Homo sapiens: one gene and its partners. Changing the gene in region 1 together with any one later gene gives a genetic interaction. Each region holds a gene or a part of one and is shown in the gene's direction. Other genes may lie near its edges. The genes, in order: ATR, ALKBH4, ETV1 and PARP1.

The links.
Region 2: changes in ATR (region 1) and ALKBH4 together harm fitness more than expected from each alone (negative genetic interaction), as found in Homo sapiens cells (one study listed by BioGRID).
Region 3: of ATR (region 1) and ETV1, extra expression of one rescues a mutant of the other (dosage rescue), as found in Homo sapiens cells (one study listed by BioGRID).
Region 4: changes in ATR (region 1) and PARP1 are lethal when combined (synthetic lethality), as found in Homo sapiens cells (one study listed by BioGRID).

The regions. Positions count from the first base shown.
Region 1 is NC_000003.12:142,449,720-142,456,919, reverse strand, and holds part of ATR (serine/threonine-protein kinase ATR), read left to right. Parts: intron 1-3,686; coding exon 3,687-3,792; coding exon of another isoform or gene 3,793-3,864; exon of another isoform or gene 3,865-6,317; coding exon of another isoform or gene 6,318-6,347; exon of another isoform or gene 6,348-6,361; intron 6,362-7,200. UniProt on the Homo sapiens protein: Serine/threonine protein kinase which activates checkpoint signaling upon genotoxic stresses such as ionizing radiation (IR), ultraviolet light (UV), or DNA replication stalling, thereby acting as a DNA damage sensor.
Region 2 is NC_000007.14:102,461,829-102,469,696, reverse strand, and holds the start of ALKBH4 (alpha-ketoglutarate-dependent dioxygenase alkB homolog 4), read left to right. Parts: upstream 1-4,833; 5' UTR 4,834-4,860; coding exon 4,861-4,983; intron 4,984-7,868. Other genes in the region: LRWD1 (leucine-rich repeat and WD repeat-containing protein 1), read right to left, coding at 51-123, 635-842, 1,043-1,143, 1,320-1,434, 1,510-1,635, 1,874-1,978, 2,218-2,358, 3,427-3,543 and 2 more. UniProt on the Homo sapiens protein: Dioxygenase that mediates demethylation of actin monomethylated at 'Lys-84' (K84me1), thereby acting as a regulator of actomyosin-processes.
Region 3 is NC_000007.14:13,979,659-13,986,858, reverse strand, and holds part of ETV1 (ETS translocation variant 1), read left to right. Parts: intron 1-173; coding exon 174-221; intron 222-446; exon of another isoform or gene 447-682; coding exon of another isoform or gene 683-743; intron 744-7,200. UniProt on the Homo sapiens protein: Transcriptional activator that binds to DNA sequences containing the consensus pentanucleotide 5'-CGGA[AT]-3'. Required for olfactory dopaminergic neuron differentiation; may directly activate expression of tyrosine hydroxylase (TH).
Region 4 is NC_000001.11:226,376,954-226,384,153, reverse strand, and holds part of PARP1 (poly [ADP-ribose] polymerase 1), read left to right. Parts: intron 1-970; coding exon 971-1,118; intron 1,119-2,945; coding exon 2,946-3,086; intron 3,087-3,989; coding exon 3,990-4,232; intron 4,233-4,512; coding exon 4,513-4,581; intron 4,582-4,879; coding exon 4,880-5,012; intron 5,013-6,850; coding exon 6,851-7,046; intron 7,047-7,200. UniProt on the Homo sapiens protein: Poly-ADP-ribosyltransferase that mediates poly-ADP-ribosylation of proteins and plays a key role in DNA repair.

The DNA.
Region 1 (7,200 bases):
GCTGTACTTAACATTTTGAAGAACTCTCAAATCATTTTCCAAAGCAGTTGTAACACTTTATAATCCCACTAGTAATGTATGTGGGTTTCAACTTCTCTGCATCTTTTCTATCTTTAGATAACATCTTTATCTATCCTGGTTATTGTCTGCCTTTTTTATTTTAGCCATTCTAGGGATGTGAAGTTGTATCTCATTGTGGTTTTAATTTGCACTTCCCTAATGACCAGTGATGGTGAGCATCTTTTCATGTCTTTGTTGGCCATTTGTAGATCATCTTTGGACAAATGTCTATTGAAATCCTTTGCCCACTTTTAAATTGGGTTTTTTTATTCTTTTTTTTTTTCCTTTGAGACAGGGTTTCGCTCTGTCACCCAGTCTGGAGTGCAGTGGCGTGATCTTGGCTCACTGCAACATCTGCCTCCTGGGTTCAAACGATTCTCGTGCCTCAGCTTCCTAAGTAGCTGGGACAGCATGTGTGCATGAGCCACTATGTCTGGCTGATTCTTGCATTTTTAGTAGAGATTGGGTTTTACCACGTTGGCCAGGCTGGTCTTGAACTCCTGACCTCAAGTGATCCTCCCACCTTGGCCTCCCAAAGTGCTGGGATTATAGGCATGAGCCACCATGCCTGGCCTATTCTTGAGTTGCAAGAGTTTGTTTCTTTGTTTGAGACAGAGTCGCCCAGGCTGGAGTGCAGTAACGTGATCTCCACTCACTGCAACCTCCGCTTCGTGGGTTCAAGTGATTTCCCTGCCTCAGCCTCCCCAGCAGAGAAGGGGTTTTGCCATGTTGCCCAGACTGGTCTTGAACTCGTAAGCTCAAGCCATCCACCTTCCTCAGCCTCCCAAAGTGCTGGGATTACAGGCATGAGCCACCCCGCCCAGCCAAGTTGCAAGAGTTCTTTACACATTTTGGATACAAGACCTTTTAAGATATGATTTTCAAATATTTTCTTCCATCTGTGGGTTGTCTCTTCACTTTCTTTGATGATGGCCTTTGAAACATAAAAGTTTTAAATTTTGATGCAGTCTAATTTGTTTTTTTCTTCTGGTTATTTTTGGTGTTTCTGTTGTCATATCTAAGAAACTATTCCCTAATCCAAAGTCATGAAGATTTACACCTATGTGTTCTTCTAAGCATTTTTGACTTTTAGCTCTGCTATTTAAATCTTTTATCTGTCTTCAGTTATTTTGTAGATATGGTGTAAGGTAGGGGTCCATATTCATTTTTTTGCATGTGCATATCCATTAGTCACAGCACCATTTTTTGAAAAGAATATTTTGCCCCTCGTTTAATTATCTTGGCTTTTTTGTTGAAATGGTCAATTGATTTTCAGCAATATTCTGTTGATCTATATGCCTAACCTTATGCTAACAACACAGTGTTTTGATTGTTGTACCTTTGTAGTAAATTTTGAAATCATAAAGTGTGAGTGTTCCAACTTTGCTTTTTTTCCCCCAAGATCATTTAGCTATTATGGGTCCCTTGTATTTCCATATTAATTTTAAAATCAGCTTGGATTTTGATAGGAAGGACATTGAATTTGTAAATCAATTAGGGAGTATTGCTGTCTTAACAATTTGGGAGTATTGCTGTCTTAACCATGTTAAGTCTTCTGATCGATGAACATAGAATGTTTTTCCATTTATTTGAATTTTATTTTTTTCATCAATGTTTTGTGGTTTTTAGGGTCAAGTTTTATATTTAACTTTTAAAAATTGTATTCCTAAGTATTTTATTCCTTTTGATTTTATTCTAAATGGAATTTTTCTTAATTTCATTTTTGGATTGTTCATTGCTAGTGCATAGATATATAATTGATATTTATATATTGATATTGTATCTTACAATCTGCTGAATTCATGTATTAGTTCTAATAATTATTTTTGTGCCTTCCTTAAGATTTTCTCTCCACAATAACATGTCACCTGCAGATACAGTTTTTCTTCTTCCTTTTTAATATCAATGCCTTTTATTTCTTTTTCTTGCCTACTTGCCCTAACTAAATCAGTGTCGAATAGACATGCTAAAAGTGGACATCCTTGTCTTGTTCCTGATCTTAGGGGTAGAGCAGTCAGTCTTTGACTTTTAAGTATGATGTTAGCTGTGGGAAACAGATTGTTTGAAAGGACTTTTAAAGCTTATTTATTCACCTTCATTATTTAAAAGCTGTCTATCGGGCCGGGCGCGGTGGCTCACGCCTGTAATCCCAGCACTTTGGGAGGCCGAGGCGGGCGGATCACGAGGTCAGGAGATCAAGACCATCCTGGCTAACACGGTGAAACCCTGTCTCTACTAAAAATACAAAAAATTAGCCGGGCGAGGTGGCGGGCGCCTGTAGTCCCAGCTACTCGGGAGGCTGAGGCAGGAGAATGGCGTGAACCCCAGGGGGCGGAGCCTGCAGTGAGCCGAGATTGCGCCACTGCACTCCAGCCTGGGCGACAGCGAGACTCCGTCTCAAAAAAAAAAAAAAAAAAAAAAAGCTGTCTATCAGACATTATGGTAGAATACTGGTTAGTTGGACATATGCAAAAGCAAATTCTCTGAAATAGGAAGTATATCATCATGTGGAACAGTTACCAAGAGCCCCTGTGTTAGTCTGGGTCAGTCAAGAAATAATTTCTGGAGGAAGTAGTTGAGACCTTAAAAGTTAATAAAGTTGACCATGCAAGGGAGAAGAGAGTGTTCTGAGTGATAAAAATATCAAGGCAAGTGAAGTCATGGCCTGCCTGAGAAATACAGTATGTATTCCAGAGGGTATACTTCCAGGAGGTGGTGCTAAGAGATGACGCAGGACAGGTAAGCAGGGGCTAGATTATGAAGGTCTCACATGGGGCCTGTTACTACATTATAACTTTGCCTGCAGAGCAACCAGAAGTCATTGAGGATTTTAAGAAGGAATAAAAAGGGGGCAAGGGGTGGAAAGAGATAATCTGATTTGTACTGTAGAAAAAATAGGGTCCTAGTTTGGGCCAACAGCCAGAAAACTAGTTAGAGGTTTATTGCAGTAACCCAGGAAAGGATGATGGTGTACTGGATAGTGTCACGGCCGTAGAGACGGAGATAACTGAAGAGATTCCAAAGAGATTTAGGAGTTGTAATTGCATGTTAGAGGAAGACGGGGTGAGGATGATTCCTAGATTTTTGTCTAGGGCAAATGGGTGGATGATGATTTGGGGAATACAGGAGAAATAGTTGGGAAAAGGTAATTAATTTTATTTTGGAGATACTGAGTTTGAGGTGTTTGGAACATATCCAACTGGGTATTTCCCATAGGTAATTGGATTTGATGTTTAGGGTGCAGAAAAAAGGTCTGGGCTAGGTCTATATGGTAGCTATAGATGTTATATCGTTATTGAAGACATGGTAAGGGATAAAATTCCTTCATTCAAAATATAGTCATTTACCAGTTCACAGTATACACTTAGAGATGGCACATAGAACCCATCTTACTCTATTCTCCAAAACACCTCTGACTCCCCTCTATCTTGCCTTTTTTCCTGCCTTCCCTTCTCTTACCCTCCCCTCACACCAAAACAGAAATTTCACATAACTTAATGAAGACGTAGTAATGTGTATTATAAGAGTATTACCATTAGCTTCTCATCCTTCACTTAAATATTGATGTCAGCAAGATTTCTTCTTGCAAAGATAACATCATACCATAATATTTGTTTCAATTTTAGTGTCTTAAAGACTTTTCTACATGATCCTCTTGTGGAATGGAGTAAACCAGTGAAAGGGCATTCCAAAGCGCCACTGAATGAAACTGGAGAAGTTGTCAATGAAAAGGTTAGTAGAAGGTATAGCTTGATATGGGCTGTAGTCCTCATCTCTACAAATGAACTTGATATGCAGCTATAGTTCTCATCTCTATGCATGAGAACTGCTTGGAAATACTGTTAGTGACTATTGATTACTCTGAAATCTAGTTCTCTAGTATCACAATGCCATAAGTTTTCTTTATTGTCAGTAATGTTAACAGTATTCGCATTTGTATAATAAAAGTTCATGGCACACTTGTTTAACCATAGACAATTCACAGTTATGAGATACAGTAGGAAAAACTATAGTACAAATTGCCTGAACTTACAGAACAACAGGTCTGAGCTTTAATATCATGATACCAGTATGTCACAAGCTATGTTAACAAATGCAGCAATTCACTTCTTACTTAGTTGAAGCTGCAAAGTTTGCAGATAGTTTTGTTGTTGTTGTTGTGGTGGTGGTGGTGGTTGTTGTTTTTGAGACAGAGTCTCGCTCTGTCATCCAGGCTGGAGTACAGTGGCACGATCTTGGCTCACGGCAACCTCTGCCTCCTGGGTTCAAGCAGTTCTCCTGCCTTAGCCTCCCAAGTAGCTGGGATTATAAGCGTGCACCACCACAGCTGGCTAATTATTATATTTTTAGTAGAGATGGGTTTCACCATGTTGGCCAGGCTGGTCTTGAACCCCTGGCTTCAAGTGATCCACCCACCTCAGCATCCCAAAATGCAGGGATTATAGGCATAAGCCACTGTGCCTAGCTCAGATAGTTGTTTTTAATAAGTTAGAATAGATTGAGGATTCGTTTTTTTTGGTGGGGGGCACTCTTACATCTTTAATAAGTCTTGTACAGGCTTACTAAATACAATGAATTATACCAACTATATGCTAATAAAGATTAAAAATTTACATTCCAGTTAACTACCTAAAGAGTTTAAGTCCACTTTCATCCTACTGATATAGCTCGAGGAAGGCTAGACCTGTACGCCCCCATCCTTCATGTCATCCTTAACCCTTTGTCTTGAGAAAGAAGGTTTAGCTGCTTCTTTAGTTCTTCTAAAAGAACTAAAAGAAAAATTTCTTTTTCTTGCTCTATTATCTTCATCTGTAGGGTGAGATTAATATTTCCAGAATTGTGGAAAAATTCACTCTGTAGCAGTTGAAGAGCAGATGGTCTCTGGGACATGTTCCTTTTCGTTAAGTGATAGATATACTTGGCTTGTACTGGATACCTTTTACTGAGGGATTCCAATATCTGACCAGTTCTTGAACCTGTTAAAACTTCTGCTCGCTCCATTTCTGTTCTAAACAGCTGAAAGAGCTCTAGCAGGATCACACTCAAGCTATATACATATCTAACTGGACAAAGCCAGCCCTGGTCTCTACAAATAGTTTTTGTTTTTTTTTAATTAGCTGGGCTCAGTGGCACACTCCTGTAGTCCCAGCTACTTGGGAGGCTGAGGTGGGAGGATCACTTGACCCCAGGAGTTGGAGGCTGCTGTGAGCTATGATGACACCACTGCACTCCAGCCTGGGCAACAGAGTGAGACCCTTGGCATCATACTCAGATCCTTCCAACTGCTGGGATGAAGCATACAGACAAGTGCCCACTCTGGATATAGGTGTTGGTGTTCTCTTTCTGTTTCTATGGGTCCAGTCTGTGTTCTTTTGTAAGATGTCTGGGCAAGCCAGACCAAAGTCTCCTATTTTTACTTGCTGATCAGGGCCATGAAGAAAAATATTTCTAGGCTTCAGATCTCTGTTTACAATACCCATGTTATGTATGTAAAACACACCTTCCACTAAATCTTGAAAATTTTTTGTTGCAACACTGGCCATAAGGACAGGCAAACTTGCCCACACACTCTTGGCCCTGTTTGTTTCTCTCAGCTAGCCAGTCCCACAGCTGGAGCTTGCACACCTGCATCTGGATGTGCAGCATCAGGTGGTACTGCACCTCGATCCCCAACAAGTTGAAGTTTTCTTTGGAAGATTCCTCAGTGGATGTGAAATTCTCCTCTAGGAGGGAATTACACCTGAGCAGCAGGGGCTGTTTCACAATTGACCAGGTAGACAAACCAGCCAGGCCATTTTCCTGGAGCTCCAGGGATGATTCATATTCACTGGTGTCTCTTAAGACGGAATTGATGGTGTAGTTCACAGCTTGTTGTTCTGATTTTGAGTGTCAGATTCTGCAAAGGGTTTTTCTTTTCTGAGGTGAGCTCCGCGAAGATAATGGGTGAGCTGCTATTTTCACCATTTTTAACACCGTATTGGTATCTGTCTGCTTGGTCGGAGAACACTTCCAGAAATGGCAACTGAACGGAAGCTCTGTCTGCTTGTGGTTGGACCACTTGAACATGTTCTGTCCACGCAGTGTGATAACGAATGATATTAGGGTGCTGAAGACCTGCCAGCACCTTCATTCCCCGTAGTTCTTTCATGTAATGTGTTTTTGTTGCACCCTTAATCAGGATTTTTTAAATTGCATAATACTGACCATCTAATTTATTCCTGACCTTGTATACTCTTCCATATCCACCTTTTCCTAAGATGGCAAGTTCTTCAAATTCATTTAAGTAACGTGAAGTTTGTGCTTCAAAGGGTACTTCCCTTGATCTGATTTTCTGGATATGAGAAATAGCCTCACAAGGATCCTGATGAACTCTCTCTTTAGTGGACCTCATTAAGTGAGTAATAGCTCTGTGGTGATGTAGTCTCAATGAGCTAAACTTGTCACAAGTGAAAGAAGACAGCAGCCCCATTTTGATAAAGGTCTGGCAAAGTAACTTAAACACTGTCTTGAATGAACTGGGTTTGGTTCACGCACATGGCTCAAGTGCTTCACCAAAGAAATAAGCGGCAGCTGGTTTGCAACTGCAAAAGGGAAAGTTGGCTGTTGTAGGGGTTATTTTAATACCTGGAGTTCTGCTGGAACATAAGTCATATTTGGAGTCCAGGCTCTTGGCGGAAAAGTCGATGGCAGATGGCACAGCAACAGTCTCCACCCCGTGGCCCTCCTCTTTGTGCTCGTGGGCTGCAGCGCAGCCCACCAGCCCACCCAGCACCACCTCTGAGAATTATTCTTCTAATAACGTTATTCTTCCTTTTGCATTCAGATATGCTTAAGAAATTGTACAGTTCCAAGTAGCTCACTTAGAACACCCATTTGCATGTACTAACATAATGTAAATATTAGGCAGTACAGCATTGTTATTTGAATATTCATTGAAATGTTTAAGTCCTAAACACTTCCAAAGCAGATTTAAAAAATTATTTTTCTAGAATTGTAATGTGTAAATAATTCCCTGGTATTTCACGTAGTCCAGAAACATGTCCAAGCAGTTGATGTTGAATCAATCTTGCGAGCCTCCAAATCAGTATCACAAGCTAACTGTATTTGTTTAATTTCTTCTTTTCCTGTATTTGCTCTTAC
Region 2 (7,868 bases), on another chromosome or scaffold:
TGTCCCTGCCCCAGCAGCTGGCCACTCCCCAGCCTCACCCGAAGCATCACCTGGCCTGGAATTCGTAGTCCTGGTTGGGCACCCCGATGTCCCAGAGGATGATCCGCTTGTCATAGGAGGCCGCTGAAGAGGGGGTGGGGTAGGGGAGAAGTGGCCCTGAGATGACCCTGCTCCCTCCTGCTGGCTGCATCCCAGGCTGAGCCCACGGTCCCAAGGCCAGCCCCTCCGAGGCGGGGAGGGCGGGCCGAGGCTAGGAGACAGGAACACTCCTGGGCCCCCAATCCCTGTTTCCTCCATCTAACCTGATGCGGTGGCTCCAGCGGCCACTTCCTGTGGCTCATCCATCCCCCTTGACAGGGGCGCCACACCCGGGGGCAGGGGCATCCCCCCAGGTCACTGACAGGGGACAGAGTGGCCCAGGCTGTTGGAAAACTCCGAGGCCACAGAGCAGGCTGTGGATAAAGCCAGGGTTGAAGCGACATGGCTTCCTGCCAAAGCTAGAGTCGGAGCGGTGCAGACTGGGGCCCGGCAGGCGCCCGAGCTCACAGCCATCCCAGGGAGGGGAGCGTGGAGGCTACTGGGGCAGCAGGACAGGGGTGCTTGGGGGTCCCAGGGGTGAAGGGGAGGGGCTTACTGAAGAGATGGGTCTCGTGGGCGGGGCTGAAGCACAGGGTGGCGATGGCCTTCTTGTGGGCTCGGATGACCCCGCAGCAGAAGCCGGCACGCACGTGCAGCAGCCGGACCAGGCCCCGTAGGCCTGCAGCCGCCAGCACACTCCAGCGCTTCTTGTGGCCAGCCTGTGTGACCACCATCAGAGCGGTCCAGGCCACAGAAAAGAACTCCTGGGCGGGGGTTAGAGTAAACAGTCACTGGGGCAGAGCTATTGGTGTGAACACGCGGGTAGCCCGGGCCTGGGGGAGGGAGCCCCAGCATGAAAGAAAAAGGCCATGGGGCAGGGGGCCGAGCCTGCATCCATCCCCATGCTGCTGTTCAGGAGTCAGTCGGGCACCCTTGCCCAGCAGGGACAGGGCCTTGCACTCACCTCGCCGGGTGCCTTGTACTTGTGGAGCACGATGCCCGTCTGGCAATCAATTACGCACACAGCCTCCCCGCCGCACGTGGCCACGGTCTGGGATGTGGCCCCTGAGTGCCCGGTTTTGAGAGGTCGGATGAGCAGAGACATTTCCCATCTAGGTCCTCCCTGCAGCCTCCTCCTCCCAGCCTTGATGGCGCCTTTTAAGCTCTGTCTCCTGATCCCCCACCCATCCAGGCGGCCCTATTTCCAGCGGCCCTTGCCCCGCCTGCCCGCCACCATGTACCCTCCTCCCAGGCCGGCTCGAAGGCACAGGCCCACAGCTGGGTCTCGAGGTCCTGGGGGCTGTTGTTCTTGCTGTGGCACTGCAGGAAGTGCAGGGGCTCCAGCTTCACAGCAGGCTGTGGGGGGAGAGAAGGGTCACAGCTGCCCAGCCCCGACTCATCTGCCACCTGCTCCTTGCCACCTCAGCTCACCTGGCTGCCATCGGAGCCTGCCACAGGGCTGCCCTCCACCTGGGCCGACGGGGAGGCACACGCCCGCTTGCTGGGAGAGAGGCTGAGTGGGACGTCGTCTGGCCGTTTCAAGGCCGCCAGTCTGGCCTGTGGAGGGGGCCTTGTGACCATGGGCCTGTCTGCCTGGGGCTTCCTTCCTCCCCATCACAGGCTGGACCCCACCTCACTGCGGATGCAGGAGGCCCAGGCTGGCCCGGGGTCACCTAGGGAGTGAGCCAGGACCTGGGGTGCTTCCTGGGCACATGCCCAGGACGCCTTGGTCTCCTGAAGCTTCTCCAGGGAGGAGGGACTGGGCTGGCCTCAGAGCCCTGGGAGCTGCACTCACCCTGGGCTTGTGGGCAGCTCCAGCTTCTGGGGGCTTCTCTGGGCTGTTAGCCTTTTGCACCTGGGTCCTACTGGCGGCCACCAGCTCCTCAGAGATCATCCGCACCTGGGTGGGGCCAGGCCATCAGGAAGCTGGGCAGAGTCCCAGGTGCCCCCAGCCCTGCCGATGCATAGTCAGGGGGAGCTTATGCTTCCAGAGTTGGGGAAGGGCCTCTCCAGCCAACAGGGCTGCCCACCCTGACTCACCCCACTCCCACAGCCCCTCAGCCCTTCATGGCCAGGGACCTCCAGGCAGCTAGAGATACGAGAGCCAGTGACTCCCTGCACATTGGGACAGGGACATACCCGCCACTGGGTGAACTCGCTGAGGGACTCGGGCCCGTAGCGGACATCCCTGACAGCCGACTTCACAAAGTCCGCCTGGGCCTTCTCAGCCTCCTCTTCAGGACCCAGTGTGGCCATGAACTTCTCCCAGTGAGCTGTGACCTGGTGCAAGAGGGACCAGATCCAGGCCCGGCCCACCCCAGCTCCTCCGGACCCAGCCCTCCATCTCAGGGAATCTCAATCCCGCCACCTGCTGGAAGCCTCCTGGAATCACAGCCTCATAAAACACACACACACACACACACACACACACACACACACACACACACCCCACACACACCCCAGCAACAACCCAGGTGCCTACACACACACACACACACACCCCAGCAACAACCCAGGTGCCTACACACACACACACACACACACACACCAGCAACAACCCAGGTGCCTATAGTCCCAGCCACTGGGAGGCTGAGGAAGAAGCATCGCTTGAGGCCAGGAGTTGGAGCCTGGGGAACAGAGCAAGATCCCATCTCTACAAAAAATTTTAAAATGATCCAGACGTGGTGGCATGCGCCTAAAGCCCCAGCTATTCAGAAGGCTAAGGCGGGAAGATCGCTTGAGCCCAGGAGTTGGAGGCTGCAGTGAGATACGATCACACCACTGCACTTCAACATGGGCAGCAGAGCGAGACCCTGTCTCTAAAAAAAAAAAAAAAAAAAAAAAAAAAAAAAAAAAAAGGTAAAAAAGAAACACCCCAGAAAAAGCTACTTAGAAGAGTCAGGCCGGGTGTGGTGACTCATACCTGTAATCCCGACACTTTGGGAGGCCAAGGCGGGCAGATCACCTAAGGCCAGGAGTTTGAGGCCAGCCTGGCCAACATGGTGAAACCCTGTCTCTACTAAAAATACAAAAAAAATTAGCTGGGCATGGTGGCAGGTGCTTGTAATCCTAGTTACTCGGGAGGCTGAGGCAGGAAAATCACTTGAACCTGGGAGGCAGAGGTTGCAATGAGCCAAGATCGCATCACTGCACTCCAGCCTGGGCGACGGAGTGAGACTCCATCTCAAAAAATAAATAAATAAATAAAGTAGCACATCAGGCTAGGGGCTGTTGGGGCAAAGAGCCTCTATCAGTCACCCTCCTCAACATCCTCCTGATGTCCAATTCTATCATTCTCCCAATGCCCCCACAGCTCCTAAGCACACAATAATCCTCTCATCCCCTTACCCTGCTGGTCAGCTCCCGATTCAGGTTCTCCACCTGAGAGTAAGTTGAGGACGCATCCTTGCCATTGACCTTACGGAGCGTGGGCAGGAGAAAGGAGACTTTCAGGTTGTCATTGACCTGGGGAAGAGAGGGTGAAGAGCAGTGGCTCAGGAGATGCTGAGCCTGAGCCCAACAGAGTCCTGGCCCCAGGTATGAAGCTGGTGGGAGGCTCCCACTTACCGTCAGGAAGGGGTTGCCCTCCAGGCTGAGTTCCTCGAGCTTGGGGAACTGGCACAAGGCAGTAACATCCCCCAGCTGGTTGTTGGCGCAGCGGAGGACACGCAGGTGGGACAGGCCCAGGTTGTCCGGCAGCGTCTCCAGGTGGTTGTTAGACAGGTCAAGCTCCTGCAGCTGCGTCAGGCGGCACAGGAGTTTGGGGTCCAGGTGCTCGGAAAGCAGCTCCAATCCTGACAGGCTGGAGTTGGGGGCAGAAGGCTTAGGGGGCGGGCAGGCTTTGCACCCTACACCAATCTGCCCCGGGTACCTCAGAAGGCTTTTTCACCTGACATTTCTCGTACAAGTGTAGCCGCCCCGCCCATCCCCCCGTTACTTTATTTTTAGAGACGGGGTGTCACTCAGTCGCCTAGGCGCGATCATAGCTCACAGCTGCCTCCAACTCCTGGGCTGAGGGATCCTCCCGCCTCAGCCTCTCGAGTAGCTGGGACTAGAAGCGCGCGCCACTACTCCCGACTCCACACCACTTAACAAAAAAAAAAAAAAAAAAAAAAAAAAAAAAAAAAAAGCTGCAACTACTTTAGGACTCGGGGGCATCCTAGCCCCCTCTAGGATGCTCTTCCTGATCCTTCGGGGGCTCGTCTGTGCTTCCCAGGCCCTCTAACGATAGCGGCAGGCTGTGCCCCTAACTGTCCGGGCTCCCTTCAGGGGATGAGGCCCCTCGGGGCTCCCGGCGAGCGGGTGGGGCCACGATCTCCCAACAAGAAGACATTTGGACCACTCTGCCGAACCCAGAGGGCGATAACGGGGACAAGCGGGCCGTTGGGGAGGGTCCCCGCTCTTCTCCCCGACCGCCCGGCCCCGAGGACACAGCCTCACCCGCTGCCCGGCTCTTACTCCAGACTCCGGATCTTCCCCAGCCGGTCGCTCTTGGGGCGCCCGCGCTGCATTAGCAGCCGCGCCGAGAGGGGGCCCATGGCGAGGAGGCGCAGCCCGCGCTGACCCAGTCGGCCACCCCGGCGTGTGGCGTCGCCCTGCGTCTCCTGGAGCCCGGCACTGGCGTCCGCGGTAACTGAGCCCAGGAGGCGGCGCCGCGCGAGCCCGTGGGCGTTAACGACCGGAAGGAAGCGGAACCCAGGCCTCGTGCCCCCGCCCGGCGCGGACTACAACTCCCAGCGGCCCCCACGGCCGCGCCTGCGCACTGGCCACGCGGACGGCGCGATGGCGGCGGCTGCCGCCGAGACCCCCGAAGTCCTTCGGGAATGCGGTTGCAAGGGCATCCGGACCTGTCTGATCTGCGAGCGGCAGCGCGGCAGTGACCCGCCCTGGGAGCTGCCCCCAGCGGTAAGGGGTGGGAGAGGGGCCGCGCCCACAAACGTCGCTCTGCATCTGGGGAAACTGAGGTCCAGCTTGGCCATGATAGGGGCCGGGATCGAAGCCTGTGAGGGACCCTTACGGTAGGGGTGATGCAGGGTGAGGAGATGAGGGCTTTAAGGAGCGGGCTTGGGAGTGGGGAAGGAGCTGGAACGTGGGTGGGTTCGATTACAGGTCACCTCGGGGACTCTGGGGGGATCTGCCTGTAAACCTCGACGTAGCCTCTCGGGTCTGGCGCTGGGAGCTTCACGGGCCTGCAGGGAGATGACACGGAAAGGGTCGATCGAGGGTGCTGAATACCAGTCCAACGGTGCCTGAAGGCCGTGGACTGCAATGGGCAAGGAGACAGTGAATTCCAGTTAACTAACGAAAAGGAACTCAAGGATCGCTGCAACCCAGGAGCTGGAGGCTGCAGTGAGCTATGATCGAGCCACCTCACTTCAGCCTGGGCGACAGAGCGAGACTCTGTCTCACAAAAAGAAAATAAATAAAAAAAGAAAAAGAACTCAGCGCCTTTGGGCTGGCATGGAAGGACTGTGGTTGGTTGCAAGGGCATTCCAACCCAGAAAACTGCGTGGGGTAGGAAGGTGGATTGGTGATGCCTCAGGTGAGAGAGATGAGGCTGGAGAGGTTGTGGGGGGGGGGAGGTCTGATCACAGATGCTCCCCGGTGCATCAGCTGAGCAGGCTGGACTTGTCCCAAAGGCCCTGGAGAGCTCTTGAAGGGTTTTAAAGGAGTGATGAAGTCAAATGTGAATTTTAGAAAGATCCTGGGAAGGGAACGGGCAGATATGAAGGTGTGGAGGCTGGTAAGCCAGTGAAGACTGCCCCAACGTCCATGGTAAAAGTGCCCAAGGTCCTATGGAAACAGCATGGCATGCCTCATGAATTAAACATAGAATTACCCATGATCCGCAATCCTGCTTCTGGGTATATATCCAAAGGAACTAAAAGCAGGGTCTGGAAGAGATATTTGCACACCCATGTTCATATTCACGACATTATTCATGACAGCCCAAAGATGGAAGCAAACCAAGCATCTATCAAGATACCTGGGCCGGGTTCAGTGGCTCACGCCTGTAATCCCAGCACTTTGGGAGGCTGAGGTGGGCAGATCACCTGAGGTCAGGAGTTTGAGACCTGCCTGGCTAACATGGCGAAACCCTGCCTCTACTAAAATTACAAAAACTTGCCGGGCTTGGTGAGGCACATCTGTAATCCCAGCTACTCGGGAGGCTGAGGCAGGAGAATCGCTTGAACCCAGGAGGCAGAGGTTGCAGTGAGCCAAGATCGCACCACTGCACTCCAGCTCAGGTGACAGAGCAAGACTCCTTCTCAAAAAAAAAAAAAAAAAAAAAAAAAGAGATGACTTGATCCACAAAATGTGGTGCATACACATAGTAGAATACTATTCAGCCTTAAAAAGGAAGGACAGGCCGGGCACAGTGGCTCACACCTGTAATTCCAGCACTTTGGGAGACCGAGGCAGGCAGATTGCCAGAGCCCAGGAGTTTGAGACCAGCATGGGCAACATGGTGAAATCCCACCTCTACAAAAAAATTAACCATACATGGTGACACGTACCTGTAGTCCCAGCTACCCAGGAGGCTGAGGTGGGAGGGTTGCTTGAGCCTGGGAGGTCAAGGCTGCAGTGAGCTGTGATCACGCCACTGCACTCCAGCTTGGGCAACATAGTGAGACCCTGTCTCAAAAAAAAAAAAAAAAAAAAGGACATTTTGACATATGTTACAGCATGGACGAACCTTGGGGACACGATGCTAAGTTAAGGAAGCAGTCACAGAAGACAAATACTGCATGATTCCTGTTGTGTGAGCTACGTAGGGTAGTCACAGGGACAGAAAGTAGAAGGGTTGTTGCCAAGGGCTCAGGAAGGGGAGATGGGGACCTGTTGTTTAATAGGGAAAGAGTTTCAGTTTTGCAAGATGAAAAAGTTCTGAATGGTGGTGACGGCTGTACAACAATATGAATGAACTTAAGAGTTTTAATTTGTGGAAGGGGCCAGGTGCGGTGGCTCATGCCTATAATCCCAGCCCTTTGGGAGGCTGAGGCAGGAGGCTCGCCTGAGTCTAGGAGTTTGAGACCAGCTTGGACAACATAGCAAGACCCTGTCTCTACAAAAAATTTAAAAATTAGCTAGGTGTGGTGGTGTGTGCTTGTAGTCCCAGTTACTTGGGAGGCTGAGGTGGGAGGATTGCCTGAGCCCAGGAGGTCAAGGCTGCAGTGAGCTGTGAGCGCCACTACACTCCAGCCTGAGTGACAGAGCGAGACCCTGCCTCAAACAAAAAAAAAGAAAAGAAAAAAATTGCGGAAAGTCTGACCCGTTCCAGTGGCCATGTGGAGGTGACATCTTCCCAACCCGATGGCTATGGAACAAGGAGAGTGAGGTATCCAGGATCTCAGGGCACTGGGGCAGTTCCTCACTGGCTTTCCAGCCTCCACCCTTCATATCTGCCCCTCCCCCCTCCAGATCTTTCTAAAATTCACATTTGACCTCGTCACTCCTTTAAAACCCTTCAAGAGCGCTCCATGGCCTTTCGGACAAGTCCAGCCTGCTCAGCCGACACACGGGGGACTCCCAGTTTTAATGTTTCCCGTGGGAGGGCCCCAGGAGCAGGAGGAGATAGTGCCAATCTCAGGAGGGGTCTGAGCTGGAGTCGGTGGCTGGAAGTAAAGCATTGGAAGGGGCTGAGGTCCCTGGAGGGAAGAACAGAGAAAGACAGCGGCCCACAGTGAGTGGCAGCCCAGGGTGTGAGGAGCCTGGAGATGGAAGAGGAAGAGGAGACAGGCCACAGAGCCCAGGGCTGAGTTCTGGTGGCCTCCGAAGTCCTCACTGGG
Region 3 (7,200 bases), on another chromosome or scaffold:
AGTAGGCAGTATTATTGAGATATTTAAGTTATGCCTCTTTTTTTTATTTTTATGTTGACTGCGTCTCTTGAAATTAAATTTATATTTAATACCAATTTCATGACAAATATTTCCATTTAATGAAGATTAAAGATTTGCAAATCTTATGTTTATGTCTTTGACTTGTTTTTTAGAACTCTTTCAAGATCTAAGTCAATTACAGGAAACATGGCTTGCAGAAGGTAAGGCAAAATTTGCTTTAAAAGGGGGGAAAGCAACTCTAGAAGGAGAAAGAAAAGAAGTCCTGAACTTGCTGTCTTAATATTCAGCCCAATTAATTGAGCTCTAAAAGAGCCACCTCATGTGTCATGCATACATTAGAGCCTCTGATGAGTTTGTCTTTGGGGACTCTGGGGCTGTACTACCCAGTGTCATCACAAATTACCAGGAGAAATTGCTTCCAGCTCACAATCACATCTGCTTTTGGCAAGAACTAATGCACCAAGACTTCAAGTTCTAAGCCTCTGTTCAGATTTTAATTGCAATTGATCAGGTTTATATTATTGTACCTCCAGAGACCTCCTAGAGCCAGAACCCGGCTGGCTTGCTGTTTCCTTTAGAGCAGCGCATATCATTATTTGGTGTTCTGGTGGAGGACTTTTCTGATGGCAGAAATTAGTTTCTCTGGGTTCATCAGGACGGGATGCTTCAAGATTTAAGTGCAAGTGTCTTCTTTCCACCTTGTTCACAACACAGAACGTTAGGTGTGTATCTAATGCTTAGGAAATCTATGGGTTTAAAATAAATGGGAGATATGAGGATTTTAAAAATGTTTTCCATGTGTTACTATTCATGTTATGTTTGCTGAAATTGACCTTTGCTATTTTGTCAGTTTTATTAGGATTTATTTAATAGAGCAAGGATACATTTAAAGGCATTACTTTCATTTTGAATTATTTTTTGTTAAAATTTTGTGGTGCAATCTGTTATATCTTTTATCGTATGCAACTTTATAGGAAAATGAGATTGCTTCATAAAGCTTTATACAACTTCAAAAATGCCTAATGTTGAGGGACTTCTGTTGGCATTCATAATTTGAAATTTTTCTTTTGGATTTGGCATACAAATGTGAAACATTAATTTTATGGTGTGGTTTGTGGGAAATACAAAGAGAAAAATTATAGATATTTAAGCATTGAGTGTATAACAGTATTATTTGTGTGTTCACATTATATGGGAAACATGCAAATTTTGGAACAGATTTTAAGATGGTTAAAAAGGAGAGAGTGGGTCTCTTTAAATGGAACCCAGGTGTTACTGTAGCTACTTTGAGGCAGACTGACGTGTTTTATCGGTGGTCTTGAATGCAGTTGATCAAGTTGCTGTTAGCATGTAAAATAAGTTTCTTTGTTTTGCTGATAGTCTAGTTCTCCAAAGAGCTTTTTCAATCTTTATCAATCTTTAAAGTTAAATAGCTTTCCTAATAGTCCTTTGAAAGGATGATTGTATTTATATGTTAATGAAGGTAAGACTTACTGAAAGTTTTGGCTATATTTAAGGATCATTTTGCTAGTCTGTGTAAATGAAACTTACTGCAATACATTACTTTTTATTGCAACATAAGTCATATTCAGATACAAGTTTTTCAAGGAAAATTTGCATGGAGATTCTTGTATTAACTTATGCCTATTAGTTTTGCAAAGTCAAAGGTTGTGAGAACATTACCTTTATGAGAGAATTTATTTGCTTCTCCAAAATAACTTAAAATATCTATTTTAATTGTTCTGGAAGGTTTGTTGGTTCTTAGATGTTTAAATCTCATTGATTCCAAGTCAGTGCACTTGCTGGCAGATTTTGAATGTGCATAGCAACTCTGTTCCTGGAATTTTAAAATGTGGAATCTGTGACAGACTCTTACCATTTTATAATCAGTTTCAGTACTTTTTTTTTAACTTTTGACTTACTTGTTTTGTGTCTTGTAGCTCAGATAAGTGATTGCAATAATTTATCCAAATTTATCTTTTAAAACTCTGCAGAGAATAGTCTTTCTCCGGGATTATTAACATACCTGTAAATCAAACCTGAAGATTTAGCACTACAAAAAATAATCCTAGAAAATGATCAGTGTATTTGGAAGAACATGGACCTTTACTTAGAAAAGAATTATAATTTCAATTAAGTTCAGGAATTAATCATGAGTGTTTTATATGAATTCCCAGGTGGACTACTATTTACAAACTATGGATAAGATTTCATTTTAGAATAATTTAAGCGTTTTCAAAACAGTTTACGTTAATTTATCTAATCACGATGTAAGTAAAAAGTTGTTAACGTGATGTTTAAAACCTAATAGTGAGAAAAGAGATCTTTTTAACTTCTTGTTTCTAGACTCCACTTTTTTTTTGTTTTGAGAAATTAAATATATTATTTTGCACTGATATTTTAACTTGACTTATCCCACCTCTTGAACGGTATTAGCTAAGAAGAGATCCCCAAATTACCCTAGTTTATTTGTAGTGAGATGTGTCCATTTATGTCTTTCTGGACATCCAGAAATTAAAACATTGCCAAATTGGCAGACCATGAACCGTTTACATATTTCTTTTCATAATGCTCCATAGCCAAGAAAGTGACCATGGAATTTTAAGACATCTTGACCCTTTTAAAAAAGATCATTGGCAGTTAATCAAGTTTCTCGCATGAGTTAGAATTCCACTGGGAAGTTAAACAGGTCTAAAAACCTTATTAGACATAAGAGTCAAGTTAGTTGTCATATGTCATATGATAATTGTGTTTTTGAAAAATTATAAAAGTCCTCAAATATTTGTGAAATGATATCTTAGCATGTTTAGTTTTTTTTTTTCTGTAAGACTATTCATAAATTTTACCCCAAATGCAACATATGGATTAGTCATGGGTAATTATTATGGATTATAAAATTTCTTTTATTTCTAAGGGGAAGTTGGAATAGATAAGGCAGGACTGTTTGAGGGTTGGGATGGGACCAGTATTTTCAGTTCAGTAAAGTCCTCTGTAAAAATATACTTGCATTCTACCAAGAAAGTTAATTCCCATACAGAGATTTAAATATGTTGGTGGAGAATATAACTTTACATTAATATCATTTCCCAAGAAATAACACTGCAATTTAAAGGTTTTTTTTTTAACATCTAAACACAGTTTAAAACAATTATCTTATTCTGAAGAAAACTGCAAAGTTAATGTTTTCAGTAACCACAGTAGTTAAAAAAAAAAAAAGTCAGGGAATATGCCAATTTTAAAATGTTGCCATAGTCACTTTATGTTATAATTTTACTATGTGCAATTCTTTATTGATTCTTTGTCTTTTAAATTAGACTGCTACTGACAGAAAGGCAATTGCAATTATTTGATCCCATGAAATAATGAGTTTAAATATCAATTCTATCAACATCATGGTGATGTCTTATTCTTAACAACCTGAAAGTCATAGTTAAAATGGAACCTCTTGTGTATCCAGAACAAAAATAGAAAGATGTAAAAAATTAAGACAGGATTGTATTCTTCCAAATTTGCTTCTTAAAGCTCACCTACTAACACAACTTAAAGGGAAATAATAATTTTCAGTATATATCTGATGTAAATGTGTAGCTGCTCTCTTGACTGTTATTTTGTTTCCGGTCTAGATGTTCTTTCAGGTTCACTTTCATCAACAATATTCTCTGTCTTCAGGGTAAAATGTTTTCCAGTGGTTTTGTATTGAGTCAAGTTTAGTGCTGCCTCCACACTTCGAGTAGGAGTTTTATCTGCAAGAACAACCTTTCTACAGCAAAGCTTATTACATCATACGAATAAGGGTTTTTTCCTTTTGGTTTTATGTGACCTTCAAACAACAGTCAGGTCAACTTAAAAGCAGAGATGTCATTACTTTCCCCTCAATTCGCTTTAATGGCTGATGGTAAATTTATATTCAAAATCATAAGTAATATGTGCTATTGTTACTTACTATGTGTAATGTCATCCACAATATACAGTAGTCATAATACACTCATTTTTATTTTTCAGAAATCCTACTTTTTTTTAATGGAACATAAAATTGGTTATGTGCTCATGAATTATTTTCCCCCACTTGGTGCAATAAGGATTAAAGGCTTTAAAAACGACATTATTTTATGTGGTTTACATAAAACATGAATTTAGAATTAAGCATTGAATTACAGAACTCCATATAATCTCTTATAATTGAACAACAATAATTTCATGTGTGTGTGGGCGGGGAGAGGATGGGCTATCACCCCTCTTTTTGATGTGCTAGAAAATAATCTAAAATATGAGAGAAAGACTTCCCATTTGAGTTTGACTTAAAGACAGCAGATAAAGTATATTTTATTTCTAAACATTCATTGGAATTGCATAAATGTTTTTTCATCCATGTTTTATTTACAAAATAGAAATTTTTTTTAAAAATAGAAAAATAGGATTTGGTGTAGTATAGTGTAGTTTTTCCAGAGGATCCTAATAAATAAAATATTGCTAAGCTTTTCTATTTCAGTTATAGGAAATGTGCAGTTTGTTACATTTTGTAGTATAACTTTATTCCCTTTGATTTGTGTATAATGTTATAATAAAAAATAATAATAGAGTCAGACCTCTGTAGCATTAGAGAAAATATTTGGCTAGAAACAACGGCTAGTTGGCTCTGAGCTTCCCTTAAGTTTTCAAGTTACTGCAGGTCAGTTTTAGTTAGGAATTGAAGCTGATTTGACACAACGACTAAAACTTTACTGTTACAGTAAGAATATAGAAATATGGAAATAATGCCTTGATCAAGTATTAAAGGTGTTTTGTCATTGGAAAGTTGCCTCCTTTTTGTATGTTTAAATATGTTTATACTTCTGCATAATTAATGCTTTTACATTTGTACAATCATTTTAATGTTAAAAGTGGATGTGGTATAAAACCAAGCTTAGTGGACTCATGATTATTTTGTTCCATGGCCTGTAGCTTCAATTTAGGATTAAACAGCATACCACTGTAGGAAGGTGGATTTTTCTTTTTTTACTTCTTATTTGAAATAAAATTTAAATTTCTCATGAGAAATTTGTTTCTAACTCTTTGATTCAAAGAGAAATGCTACAAAGTTCAGCAAACAATCTACAGTATTCTTATGATAAAAATAGTTGGATAATAGAAAAGAAAAATAAGGCATTTCCGTAATGGTTTTTCTTTTCCCTTTCTTGAAACCTTCTTTGCATCTTTCTGTCTTTTCCTTTTTTCTTCCTTAGTTTTATACATGCAAGTTTCTGTAACAAGTTACTCTGTAAAGCAGGATGCATGTATGTATTTGTGTGTGTGTATATATATATATGTATGTATGTATGTATGTATGTATGTATGTAACTTTGTAAACGTCATTTATTTAAATGTGTTCCTTTAATGGATCTGAGCTCTGAGACAGAGCAATAAAATTGGTGTGTTTATATTGCAAGTCCAAGTTTACTTGCTTTAGCTCCCTGGAAGGGTGTGACATGAAAAGATTGTGGTTGGGCCACATGGCTCATATGCTGGACTGTGTTTTTGTGAATGGAGGCAGAACTCCAGTTCTGCCTGCTTGTCTTGAGGAATTGCTGAGGAGATCAGCTGTCTCATTCACGGGCAGAAAGAATGACTCATACATCTTCCGCCTTGTTTGGCTCCAGGTCATTGTTACAGTGGATAGAACTGGTTTTAATTAAATATTAACCCCTTTTATACTTGACGTTTGTTTTATTTGTAATTCTTCCACTTTTTCCTTAGCTTTAAAAAAAAACCCAACAGGCACATAGTTTGTAAGAATAGGAGGGTTTTCGCTTCCCTGCAGCCAACCTTGGAAACTTTTTCATCGCTTACTTTTTCTTAAGTAATGATTATTATTTCATTTGAAAGTTAAAAATAAGCATAACATAAAGGCAAGCTATATTTAAAATTACCCATCTCTAAGGCAATATTAGTTAAGAAAAGTATTAAAATTAAAAAGGAGAATTGGTGAGTTTGTGACATATAGGTCATGATTAATATTTTTATGAATTTCTTTCTGATAATATGCATTGATACGTAGCAAAAAGACAGAAAACAGTAAAACAACTTTGGATAATAATCTAGGTAAAACAAATAGCTGAGAGTGCAGATACTGCCCTTTTAAAGCCGACATCCTGAGACTTGATGGCAACTGGTCTATTAACGTGCAATGAACTGATAGAGCCGCTCCAGCTATTACCAATAAAATCCACATGCTTAATCTCCTTGAAAGCATTTTATTGGTCTTTTGGTATATACTTTCTCCCCTTCTCCTTTCCTCCTCTTCCCCTTCGTCTTTAATTACATAGTGTGGGGAAACATTTTCATTCCCCAAAGGTGATTATATCCAGCACAGTTTATAATAGATAGTAGTGGAAAAAACATTGCTTTTTTAGGCTGACCTCTATTGTTAATTTTCAACTTTGGAGTTGGTATGGCTTGCTGCAAGTTTTCAGGCAGCTGCAGTTTGCTCCTTCACAGTATTCCCCTGAATTGAAGAAAAAAGGAAATGTATGATACAAGTGTGGCAATACTTTGTCATATTTTCCTTGCCTAGATCCAACTTGTGTTTTTAGTTAACTGCTTTCCGTTTACTCTAACTTGAAATTAGAGGTATACTTAAGCCTTTGTCTATTTAAGTAGCATGCTGCTTCGTTTGGTCTATTCAGTTTCTTAAGATTAGCTTCTGTGAAAATGTGAGTCATATGTTTTTTGTTAAAATTCTGTAATATGTTCAGGAATAAGTGTGAAGTATTTATTCAGTATGTTAAGGAGTTAGAACAGAAATAGGAATTCTTATTCTTACTCTTTACAGATTGTTATCGTGCAGCTATTTTCTGTATATTTGCGAGGTATAACTTCTAGATTATTCTACTCCTAAAATTTGGCCCTTTTTTCCTCACACATATTCCAGCACACATCACACACCCATCAGTGAGTCTGTGCTGCTCTTGCAGTGACATATATTAGGAAGTTGCAAATCTGCTTACGATGCTACAAAAACAAACAAAAGACCTTTAGAACATTCATACCATCATATTCAGTTACAAGTATACTTTTGTTACTCACCAGCTATTTTTAACTTTTCCTGTAAAGGGATATTATATTTTTATTAGATTCTTATAAATGTTGGCTTTTTAAAAGCCCAGTAATTGTTGTGGTTGATATATTTGCATCTCAATAGTT
Region 4 (7,200 bases), on another chromosome or scaffold:
AGTCCCCTGTGTTTTCAGCTCCCAGTGGGCTTAGCAGATCACTGCCTCCAAGTGCATGCTAGCATTCCCTGTCTCACATCACCTTGGCACACCTCTGGCATAGCTTAGCTCCTTTGTTAAAGTTCACCTTCCTATAGCTGATGCTCAGTCACGAATGAGATACTTTCTGAAGAGCAGAAACTGTCTTTTTAACCAGACTATGGTTGGTAGCACATATTAGGTGGTCTGTGTGTGTCGGAAGCAATCTGTGACCTCTTGTATCTAACTGACATCCTGAACACAGGCATAGCTGGAAAGGGCAGTTTCTTGATTGGATGAAGACCTGGGAGCACAGTATCTTTCCCTGAGCTTCATGTATTTGATACTTATTGAGTGACCATTTAGAGCAAGGCCCCTTGTAAATCAGTCAGAGTGAAGAGTGAATTGTGCTGATGGAAGAATTTATAGTGAATACCATAGGGCTCCCTGCATTCATTTTTCCTTCTTCTAAAAAGGAAAGCAAATACTGTGATTTCCTTTTGGGTAATAATCTCCCAGTGTGTATATAGTATTCGGGGTCTTGGAGTTCTGGAGTAGGCATGTGATCCCACAGAGGCCTATTAACTCTCGAAGGGAGCAACTCAGGAATGAGGCCAGGGAGGTTGTAGTCATACAGCAGTTCCAGTGGTGGTTCCCTGACCGAATTGGCCACTGGTTTCTGTTTTTGTTTTTTTTAGGGAAAGATTTTTCTCTTAAAGCAGCCACAATATTAGCCCTATTATAAATGTAAAAGTACCGGAAATAAGTACTGTAGCAGCAATAATACTGTCTTTCATCCTTAAAGCCTCACATTTTTCTATTTTTTGTTACTCTTTATTGTAAGAAGAAAAAAAGAGATTATTTGATTTGGACAAGCCAAATCCTCTTTGGTCTATGGGGTGGTTACCTCAAGGGAGAGCTGGCTTCTTAACTAAAACTTAATATTTTTTAGGAATTCCGAGAAATCTCTTACCTCAAGAAATTGAAGGTTAAAAAACAGGACCGTATATTCCCCCCAGAAACCAGCGCCTCCGTGGCGGCCACGCCTCCGCCCTCCACAGCCTCGGCTCCTGCTGCTGTGAACTCCTCTGCTTCAGCAGGTACAGCATTTGGGACCCCGGTCTTAGAGCTGCTTTGCAGGAATTGTTTGCCCACTACTTGCTGGTGGTGTGGAGCTGGTGAAGAAAGTATCCGTCAAGGGTCTCTCTTTGCTGACCCCACCATGGGGAAGCCTTGCCCTGCAGGGGATAGGCCTCTTCTCTTGGCTTGTTACACCCCTGACCACAGCAAGGTGGGAGAGTGTTAAGAACATAGCATCGGCTGGGAGCAGTGACTCACACCTGTAATCCCAGCACTTTAGGAAGCTGAGGCAAAAGAATTGCTGAGGCCAGGAGTTTGAGACCAACCTGGGCAATGTAGTGAGACCCCATCTCTACAAAAATGTTTAAAATTAATCCGAGTATGTGCCTTTAGCCCTAGATACTCAGGAGGCTGAGGCGGAGGATCCCTTGAGCCTGGGAGGTCAAGGCTGCACTGAGCTATGATCACGCTAATGCACACCAGCTTGGGCGATGGAGTGATACCCTATCTCTAAAAATAAAATAAACATTGTAGAAGAACAAGCAGCTCTTACTCTGGGAGGCTAGGAGAGGGGCTCCTAAGAAAGGCTAGGTCGACAGCCTTACCTGGAGTTGGGCGCAGGGTCTCCTGCCTGACTGCACTGCAGAGGAGCATCCCAGGCCTCACTCTCCAGGCTGCCCTGCGCCCACCAGTCATCCGGGCCCTGGTGTGATGCTCAAGTCTCTGTTGTATGCAGAGGGAGTTACTAATCAGCACTAGTGAGAAATGCCCCAAGCCAACCAAGACAGTGAGAGCAACGTATTTTTTTGGCAGGAGAAGTGACCCGCTGCTTGTTTACTCAGAGACATGTGGCATAGTCTATTGGTGAAGGTCACAGTTTGGTGGGTGGAGGATGAGGGTTCCTTCCTTGAACATAAACCTGTTATTGACTTCCTTTTCATATCCTGAGAGGGGACCAGTGGTCACTGCAGTGTGTGCTGGTGGTCATCCCGAGTCCACTGTGCTGCTGGCAGCCTGGGTCCAGGTGCCCACATGAAGGGCCAGTTGGGGGCTGGCATTCTGACCCCTCCATGGAGGGTTCCCTCCTCTGCTTTCCCCTGACTTGCAGTTCAGCATGAGTCAATAATTTTGTTCTCTGGAGACCTCAGCAGTTTCAGTTAAACTGTCAGTGTTTCCTAGTTGTTTGCCCTCACAGGGAAGGCAGGAAGGACTTTTCCTTGCAGCTACTCCAGTTCTGGACGGGTGTCACCTGCACTGTGTTGTTTGCTGTGAACAGAAGGCACACCCCTGTCCAGGCCTTTCTGGCCTGGGTCAGTGCACACCAGGCTGCTGCTTTTCTCCTAGAATCAGTTAGCTCAGCTCCGTGTGATTGTGCTGGCCACTGCTTTGAGGGACTATCATGGACATGTCTCATTTTAAAATGGGGTTAATTCATAAGAATTGCAGTTTGTTTGGGAGAATAACAGAAGGAATTGGGGGTTCATGTGACCTTACCCCTCTTCCCATCCGACTCCAGCCTCCTGGTCCCTCGTCCGCAGATGCAGCCTTCCTAGCCTGACCTTGGCGCGGACCTGGGGTAACCCGCAGCTGCCTGGCTCACGCCGCGAGGCTGGCCTGGCCATGGAGTGGCATTTTGTGGCTTGCTCCCTGCCCAGTCCTTTCTGTGCTGAGGGACATCTGTAGGTACTCAGGTGGCAGCTTGCTGTCCCGTCCTGTTTTCTCGCGAGTGTATTTTCATAGGCTTTTCCCAGGAGCTCGCTGCTTGGCTCACCTGCTCCTCCACCTCCCCTTACTGGGGAGCAGCACCAGAGCTGGCCTTGCTGAATGATTCTCTCCTTTCATCCCAGATAAGCCATTATCCAACATGAAGATCCTGACTCTCGGGAAGCTGTCCCGGAACAAGGATGAAGTGAAGGCCATGATTGAGAAACTCGGGGGGAAGTTGACGGGGACGGCCAACAAGGCTTCCCTGTGCATCAGCACCAAAAGTGAGTTGAATCTGAATTTGTGCAACAGGGACAATGCTTCTGTATCTTATGATTGTGATGACGAGTAAGTGAGGAAGAGTCGAACACAGCGCTGAAAAACTGGATCTTAACATCATCATCGCTGTGGTTCTTTATGAAGGGAAACCAGTATTTGCTCTCAGTGTTGCTGCTTTGTACTGTAGATTCACATGCATTGCGTGTTCTCAACTAAAGACGGTAAGCTACTATAGGTTGAGTCTCCCTAGTCCCGAAGCCCAAACAAATTGCCTCAAAATTCAACACTTTTTGAGTGACAACATGATGCTCAAAGGAAATGTTCATTGGAGCATTTCAGATTTCAGAGTTTTGGATTAGATGCTCAGTCAGTAAATATGAAGCAAGTATTTTAAGGTCTGAAAGGTTTCTGGTCTCAAGCATCTCGGATAAGGGAAGCTGCTCAACCTGTATTCTCATCACTTCGCACTGCTCTGTAAGATGTGCATAGATATCTGCCAAAACAGAAGTTCAAGGTTCAAGTATGTTTGGAAAAGGTAGGGTAAAACAAAGCTAAACAGGTTTCTGTGTGGGTTTATTATGCTGATTACCACTGTAGGTCTTCAGGAACCAGAGAAATAGAATACAGGATTTCCCATACATATTTGACATCAGGGTGTTTTTTCTTTGGAGTGTTTGTTAACATCGTGCTGTAGAATGGTTTGGAGAAGGCTGCCCTGGCTCATCATACCTTAGAAAAGGGGGAATGTTGCTGATAAAAACACTCTTGGGAGCATTAGACTTGGAAGCAAAGGAGAGCTGTGAATGCTGAGGGTTTGGAAGTACACACTAAATATAACTGTAGTAATTTGAAGTTTCAGTTTTGTTTTAAACTTGTATTTTGGTTTTTTTTCCTTTCAATTTGAACAGAGGAGGTGGAAAAGATGAATAAGAAGATGGAGGAAGTAAAGGAAGCCAACATCCGAGTTGTGTCTGAGGACTTCCTCCAGGACGTCTCCGCCTCCACCAAGAGCCTTCAGGAGTTGTTCTTAGCGCACATCTTGTCCCCTTGGGGGGCAGAGGTGAAGGCAGAGCCTGTTGAAGTTGTGGCCCCAAGAGGGAAGTCAGGGGCTGCGCTCTCCAAAAAAAGCAAGGGCCAGGTCAAGGAGGAAGGTGAGGGCCCCAAGCTGCCCCCTCCAGGGCCAAAAGCCAGGGACATTGGTGGCCAGGTTGTTGTCCACGGAACCTCTCCCTTTGTGTCCCTGACATGGCCTGTTGAGTGCTGCAGAGCAGGACACAGAATGGCAGGCGCTTTGGGGTGGCGGGAGTAGTGTGTATATAGATGCCGAGTTGACAGATGATGGGAATGAGAACAACTCATTTGCCTTCTACCTTCCCCTTACTTTTTAGTTACATTTAACTTCATGTTTACATTTTTCTGTTCTCCTCCAAGGTATCAACAAATCTGAAAAGAGAATGAAATTAACTCTTAAAGGAGGAGCAGCTGTGGATCCTGATTCTGGTAAGCAAACAGGACTGCCAGCAAAGTGGGCTGTGCCGCCCCCCAACCCCCAGCTGACTAGGAGCACACATCCAAATGCCCGCAGCATACCTGGGGCAGTGTGGTCGTGCCTTTGTCCTCACTCAGGCCTCCTTCACCAGCTCCCCCAGTCCTGAGAACACACATTTGTGGGGAGCCTCCCGAGGGTGGTGGTAGTGTATCCAAGAGGCGTGAACCTCAGGCCTGCAGATCCCTTCTCCGTGAGAGTGCTAGCACCTCAAGGGGAGAGAAAACTGTAGGTGCTTTTCCTCTGGGACAGGACTGGAACACTCTGCGCATGTCCTGGAGAAAGGTGGGAAGGTCTTCAGTGCCACCCTTGGCCTGGTGGACATCGTTAAAGGAACCAACTCCTACTACAAGCTGCAGCTTCTGGAGGACGACAAGGAAAACAGGTGAGTTCTGCAGGTGTAGCCTGGTTGTGCAGAGACATGGGCCCGTCCTGCATTGGTTAGTGCTGTGCCATCAGCCTTGTGAAACCCGTTAGGCCCAGTGCCTGGGGAATGAAATCTAATCACAGAGATCAAAAACAAATTATAAGGCCTTTGCTTAAAGGGGAGAAAGAAGCCACTTACTAACCAGTAGCGTTGCTGTCCTTGTACAGTTGTCCCAAGGTATGGTTTCACATATTCTTCTGCTGGCTTTTCTTTTTGTTTGGTGTTTTGTTTTTTGTTGTTGTTTTGCAACTATTTGTTTTGTTTTTTGAAATAGTCTCGCTCTGTTACCCAGGCTGGAGTGCAGTGGCGTAATCACAGCTCAGCGGAGCCTTGACCTCCCAGGCTCAAGCAATCCTCCCACCTCAGCCTCCTGAGTAACTGGGACTATAGGTGCGCACCACCATGCCTTATTTTTTATGGAGACGGGCCTCGCTGTGTTGCCCAGACTGGTCTCAAACTCCTGGACTCAAGTGATCCTCCCGCCTCAGCCTCTCAAAGTGCTGGGATTACAGGCATGAGCCTCTGCACCCAGCCCCAGCTGGCTTTTCTTTCAGCTACTTGAATCAAGATTTTCTGATTTTACATATGTTTTAAAACTTTGAAGCAAATAAAGGTTGGCAAGCGTTGAACTTACTCTTTAATGTTCAAACTCCCTAGTAACTAAAGAGGTTGGATTTGCCTTTTTTTTTTTTTAACATGGTGAGACAGGCAAGGTTGGAGTGTGGATGGTGGGGTACAGCAGCTGGGAGGTGGTGAGAGGTTGGGCTGGCTTTTGTCCTTATGTTTCTAGGCAGAGTGGTCCTTATCTAGTGAGTTCATTGCCCCTCAGTACAGCCACCACAAAATAGCATTTATGTGTCAGTGTAAAGGCATGTGGAAGGAACTCTTACTAAATTCTAACGTTGATTGTGGATGTGGACATTTTTCTGGTGGCTTAGATTTCCTGGTGTTAAGTGAAAGGGTGGTGTAGGCTGTTAGGGTCAGAAAAAATTTTCAACGTAGATCAAGGTAGTGCTTCTCAAAAATTTTCACAGGAAAAACCAAGCAGAGAATGAATTTTTATACCCCTGTTCAGTAGCCCAGAGAATGGCCAGGGAGTCCCAAATTTTCTTTGAAATCTGTAGTTCTATCTTTAAAATGTACACAAATCTTGTATGTGGGTTTATGATATATATATATTTATTATGAAATGACAATTAAGTGTTGCATTACCTCTGCTTTGAGTTAATCAAAAATTAGCTCATCCAAAGCTGAGCAGCACAGCAGCTGGGTGTGTGTGATGTGTACCCTCAATTGAGATGGAATTTGAACATGACAGCCTGCATCTCTAGGTCACCGGACCTGAGGAGCCATTGCCACTGCCCCCCTCATTTCATCATGTCTTGGCCTTGGATCTGAGTTGAAAGTTTCATTATTTTTAGGGTACAGCTGTAAGGGTTGACTCCTTGAACACATGACTTCCAGATAGTACTTTGTATTTCTTTGGGGAGAGGACTAGAATCATTTTTATGCAAAGGTCTCCAGACTCCAGGATTCAGTCCTCAGGCTTGGCTGCCAGAACCAAGTTTAAACTATTCTTTGGCATTTTTTGTAGTCAATATGATTTGAAAGTTTAATGAAAAGTAAAATAAAGACCCTTTATTGTTATAGCAGTTGTGTTTGTTCTGTGTTAATCACCATCCTTTTGGGGTGTGTAAAATTCTTCCCCACGTGAATGTAATGGCAGGAAAGGGGAGCTCCTGAAATGGGACAGCTGACCCACACATGTGTATCTGACACCCTCCTTCCCACTGCAGGTATTGGATATTCAGGTCCTGGGGCCGTGTGGGTACGGTGATCGGTAGCAACAAACTGGAACAGATGCCGTCCAAGGAGGATGCCATTGAGCACTTCATGAAATTATATGAAGAAAAAACCGGGAACGCTTGGCACTCCAAAAATTTCACGAAGTATCCCAAAAAGTTCTACCCCCTGGAGATTGACTATGGCCAGGTAACCACATAATGCCCTTACACTGTCTGCTTCTAGGAAAAGGAAGGGACACCTTATTCTAGAAAATCCACATCGTGGATCAGGTGGCATCATAGTAAACATACTACCAAATGTTGAAAGGAGAATAATAGTCCTTCACAAATTCTCCCCCAAA